2 separate regions of the Homo sapiens genome follow, and region 1 is linked to region 2. The links come from fine-mapping of genetic effects on gene expression. Tissue or cell type: whole blood. Region 2 holds a variant in brackets; the other region holds the start of a gene. All regions are shown on one strand. Distances are between the middles of the regions.

Region 1 (2,806 bases), 210 kb before region 2:
ATGCCACCATTTCCTCAGCGAAATAATTTCCATCCCCCCACCGCCTCCGAGGGTCTTGCACTCTCACCCAGGCTGGAGTGCACTGGTGCAATCACAACCCACAGCAGCCTTGTCCTCTCGGGCTCAAGCAATCCTCCCACCTCAGCTTCCTGAGTAGCTTGGGACTGCAGGCGCAACCACCACGCCCGGCTAATACGGCTAATATTATTTTTTCATTTTTTGGAGAGACGGGGTCTCGCTATGTTGCCCAGGCTGGTCTGGAACTCTTGGGCTCAAGGGATCCTTGTGCCTCGGCTTCACAAAGTGCTGGGATTACAGGCGTGAGCCGCCGCGCCCGGCTCTAAATAATTTCTTATCGCCCTCCCTCAGTTTGTTTTTCCTGTTATCGGGTCACCCACACATTCCACAATTGTCAAATAGGTGAGGGCACAGGTACGGAAGCGTCCCGCATTCCCTCCAGATTTTATCACGCTGAGACACAAAGAGAAAAATAGCTCCTGGCGACCGCATGAAAACCCCGATTTCAAAACAGCCACATGCAGTTTAATTTCCTTAAAAGCTTAGCCGGAAAAGGTTTCTGTGGCTTGCGACCCCAGCTGGGCTTGAGAGAAGGCTCTGCACACTGGGGCGGGGGCGGGCACAAGGTGATCGGAGGGAGGGGGATGACTCGCAGTTGTGTTTTGAGTGGTTGCCTTGGGTTATCTTGTTCCTCCAGCACACACACACTCAGTTTCTTGTCATAAGGGGAACCCTGTTATTTTGTAGACAAAAAGTGACAGAAGCAACTTTCGAAGCAAAAAAAAAAAAAAAACAAAAAAAAACAAAACCAAAAAGACGAAGAAGAAGAACAAAAGTCAACGTGAAATCTCCCCAGAGGAAAAGGAACCGCGCTGTTTGTCCCTCAGTAACTGAGCAACACCCCGGACACGAAGGGCTCCCTGTGACTTCTGCGGTTTTTCTTGCACTTCTCCGCGTTGGTTCACTTCCACCCTCGAAACTCTCCAGAAGCGAGAAATAAGGCGGGGTGGCCGCCACCCCCAGGCCACCAGCTGTGCGGGGGCCCCAGCTGCAGGGGGTCCCGGCCCAGCGTCCCTCTCGGCCCCTTCCCTCTCCCCCGGGGGAGAAGGGGCGGGTCCACGCGGCCTGGGCGCTGCGCCCGACACGCGGTAGGGGTCGCTGCGTCTCGGCGCGCGCTCCCACCGCGGTGAATAACGGGGCCTGGCTGGAGGAGAAAGGAAACCTGCTGCGGGAGGCGGCGGCGACCGGCCAGGGAGCGAGGGAGGAGAGTTCACTTTTACTTCAGTGTCAGCGCGCGGCGGCCGTGGCTGGCTCTGGCGAGAGAGCACCGAGGGAGTGGGTCGCAGATCTTCGGGCGGCTAGGGGAAATCGGCGAGAGGCGGGATCCGAGCGCGCCGGCGGGGCGCAGAGCCCGCGAGCCTGGCCAGCGAGGGTAGCCGCGGGGGGCGCGCCCCGGGCGGGCCCCCGGAGACGCGCAGGATGCCACACGAAGAGCTGCCGTCGCTGCAGAGACCCCGCTATGGCTGTAAGTGCGCCGGGCGCGCGGGGTTCCTGCTGGCCTTGGGGAGCTCCCTCCCCGAGGACGGCGTTGGAGAAGCCGAGGGAGCCGGTTGCGCGGCGCAGAGGAAATTGGAAGGCAGCAACTGCGCGGCTGGCAAAGTTGGGAGCTGGAGTTGCAAAGGGCAGTGAATCGCGTCCCCCCGCTCCTCCCGCCCCCCAATTCCTAATATCCAGCTGGCAACCCAGACCCTCCACTCCGCATACCCAAACGGGGTGCGCGGGCAGTGCGGGGATTGCGCTCTGGGACAGACCAGGTTGGGATTTTAGGGGTATCAGGTGAGGAGTCCGCGGAGCTCCGGGTCGCCGCCGGCTTGGGCCAGGGGGTGGCGTAAGGCACCGGATTCTTCCAACCCAGAAGGGGAGGAAAGTTTGTTTGCTGTGGCTACAGGTGGGCACCGCAAGTAGGGCGCCGGCGCACTCTGCTAGTGCAAAGCCGGCTTGACTGGAAGGGCGGGAGTCTCCTCCTGTCCCGCGCCCTCGAACTTCACCTGACCCGCTAGAGCCATTGGCCTCACAGGTGTAAGTCCCTCCCCTCTGAAACCCCCCAACCCCTTTCCCCCCCGCTCCCCTCGCGCGGGAGGATTGCTGTGTGGAGAGGACGCGGCACTAGGCTCCGGGGAATCCGGCGGGAGCCCGCGTGACTTGAACGAGATGGTGTCGATTACCCAGCCAGGGGCTGCCCTCGGAAATAGGTTGCTTTGGCCGATCGTGAGTGGATGGAGCCAGATTAACACCAACCACGTGGCTTCATGTGCAGAGTTCAGAGTCCTAAACATGTGCCAGGAAGCATTTCCTTTAAAACAAACAGAAAGTTGGCCTGCTGTCTCTCCAAGGTGGCCCTGTCAGTGAACCCAAGGCCGAAGACCACAGGTTAATCTTTGCCCAGGCTGGCCTTGGTGGCAGAGGTACCAGGTTTGGGTTAAGGTGGTGATACCTTCAGCAGGGTGTTTTGTTTGTGTGTGTGTGTGGTTTTGGATGGTGCGTAAGGCCACTGACTTGCTTAACTGAAAAAGGGCTCCTCAACTTGTGTAGGTTCTTTCCCCTCCTCCCCGCTGGCGTGTCAAAGATGGGAGGTTATCTTTCCTGTGTTACCCTTGCAGTGAGGGGGAGGCCTGAGGACTACAGCCTCTGTACTCTAATGCATTCAGCAGTTGACTGAGACCCAGCTTTTTGCCTTTTGGTAAACCACACAGACAGCAGAGCCTCTTGGGTTCAAGAGGGAACGCTG
Region 2 (2,652 bases):
GTTTCTTTAACAGTTCTTATCCATCAGTACTAACCTAGGAAGCAAAAGCTCCTTGGCAGTGTGTGTATATGTGTGTTTTATATATATATGTGTGTGTGTGTGTGTGTGTGTGTCTGTGTGTGCATGTCTATCTAAATGCATTTTTTTATGAATGGATGATAGTTTATTTTTTAATAATAAGGTATTGAGAAGTAACCTCCAGATAGATCCGTTTCATTAGAATTGTAAAAGCAGGTTTCATAGTTTGACTTCTGTGCTTTTCATTTGTGAACCCTATAGTCAGTCTTGTTCTCTCTTTCTCTCTCTCTCTCTCTCTCTCTCTCTATATATATATATATATATATATATATATATATATATATTTTTTTTTTTTTTTTTTTTTTTTTTTTTGGTGGGGGGAACAGAGTCTTACTCTGTCACCCAGGCTAGAGTGCAGTGGTGCAATCTTGGCTCACTGCAACCTCTGCCTCCTGGATTCAAGTGATTCTCCTACCTCAGCCTCCCAAGTAGCTGGGACTTGAATAGACACTTCATTTCTTTAAAGATGATGTACAAAGGGAAAATAAACACATGAAAAGATGCTCAAAATCATTAGTCACTAGAAAAATACAAATCCAAACCACAGTATGATACCACTTCACACCCACTAGGATGGCTGTAATGAAAAAGACAATAACAAGTGTTGGTCAGAATGTAGAGAGCTACTCAGGAGGCTGAGGCACAAGAATCACTTGAACACAGGAGGCGGAGGTGGCAGTGAGCCAAGATCATGCCACAGCACTCCAGCCTGGGGGACAGAGCAAGAATCTCTCAAAAAAAAAAAATAAAAATAAAAACCAGCAGCTGGGACCTTGATAGAAGTTGCATTGAATCTGTAGGTCAATTTAAGAAGTATTTCCATCTTAACAATACTAAATCTTCCAATTCATGAACATTGGCTCTTTTCATTTATTTGTCTTTAAGTTTTTTCCCATGGTGTTGTATAGTTTTCAGTGTACATGTCTTATGTTTCTTTCATTAAATTATGTCTAAATATTTATTTATAATTATAATGTATTTGTAGTTGCAGTCTTATGAATTGAATGTGTTCTTAATTTTATTTTCAGATTGCTTATTATGAGCGTATAGACACATAATTGGTTTTGTGCTTGCATCTTGCATCCTATAGCCTTGCTGTACTAGTTAATTAGCCTTTTGCAATCGGTGATACTAAAGAAGTTATAATGTACTGTGACTTAAAAGGAAAACTACTTCTTCATTTTCTAGGAGTTG[T/C]AGCTGTAGGGTACATCAATGAAGCTATTGATGAAGGGAATCCTTTGAGGACTTTAGAAACTTTGCTCCTACCTACTGCGAATATTAGTGATGTGGACCCAGCCCATGCCCAGCACTACCAGGATGTTTTATACCATGCTAAATCACAGAAACTCGGAGTAAGTTTTAGTATATCTGTTTCTTTTAAATTTTACAGGCTGGGTGGCAGAGGGAGAGAAGGAGGAGGATTTGACCCATTTACGTTAAATCTCATGAGCTTCTTGTCCCAACAATTACCCATGAATCAGAATGGAAATAATAGAGCTGTTATTTTCCTGGTAACAAACATTGGGGGGAAACCAGCTCCAGAGCTATTTATTGCTTTAATTCTTTGACTAAAAACTCAGTTGTAGGTGAGTTCTTGTTCAGAGTTCAATTCATTGACTATTTCCTTAGTAGATACTATGTGCACACTTCAGTCCATAGCTTCTGGTAGAGAAGATGGGGATACAGAGGGACACATAATACCATTTGAATGTTCTCTGACCTTATCTTCAAAATGCTTAGAAACTGATTGAGGCAGTGGACATTGTCACATGGAACAGTCAAGTAATAGTAAAGATAAGGGTGTGCAAAGTGTCAAAATGAGAGATACACAGATTGATTCACGGATGTTTGAGATTGTCGGGGACTAGAATCCTAAGAGAAGTTGGTGTGGAGGTAGAGCAGAAGCTGTCCTCTCGAAGACTAGTGGCTTTTTCTGAGTACAGAGCTTGTACCGCTATTATAAGGAGCCCCACAAAGACTGGCCTCTGTGATAAGGCCAATGGGCTGAGTGGTGAGGCTGATATGATCTGTCACCTAAGAGTGGGAGTGATGCCACCTGGGACCTAGCTACTTATGGCTGCCATGTCTTCAGGTGCAAACCCAACTGAAAGGGCGGTCATCTCCTCTGTCTAGGTCTTTAGAACCTAGGAACTGCCTCATTCGAAACAGGAAAAACATCCTTGGTTAATGCAAACATTTATTGAGAACCTACTATTTGTCAGGCATGATATTAGATACTCATGTGTATCATCTCATTTAATCATCACAACAATTCATAACAGCCTTCTGAACCATTTTGCCATCATTATTGCCATCTTACACATAATGAAACCAAGATTAAGTAACTTGTTGAAAGCTATCTAAAATGTGACCGGGCACAGTAGCTCACACCTGTAATCCCAGCATTTCGGGAGGCCAAGGCAGGTGGATCACTTGAGGCCAGGAGTTCGAGACCAGCCTGGCAAACATGGTGAAACCCCATCTCTGCTAAAAGATAAAAATAAAAAATAAAAAATTAGCCAGGTGTGGTGGCTCACACCTATAATCCCAGCTACTTGGGAGGTTGAGGGACAA

The links. PIP is the estimated chance that this variant, and not a neighbour inherited with it, causes the effect.
Region 1: IQGAP2 starts here. The variant in region 2 is fine-mapped to the expression of IQGAP2 in whole blood (INTERVAL, PIP above 0.99).

Annotation. Positions count from the first base shown.
Region 1 is chr5:76,402,049-76,404,854 of GRCh38, forward strand. IQGAP2 (IQ motif containing GTPase activating protein 2) reads left to right here and starts at 1,237. Exons shown (of 36, transcript NM_006633.5): 1 at 1,237-1,543. The coding sequence starts at 1,498. RefSeq lists silencers at 919-1,268, 1,439-1,548 and an enhancer at 1,202-1,702.
Region 2 is chr5:76,609,754-76,612,405 of GRCh38, forward strand. IQGAP2 (IQ motif containing GTPase activating protein 2) reads left to right here. Exons shown (of 36, transcript NM_006633.5): 13 at 1,267-1,430. Among named protein-coding and RNA genes, the nearest start is that of F2RL2, 12 kb to the right of the region's middle. The variant T/C (reference allele first, on the strand shown) is at 1,273.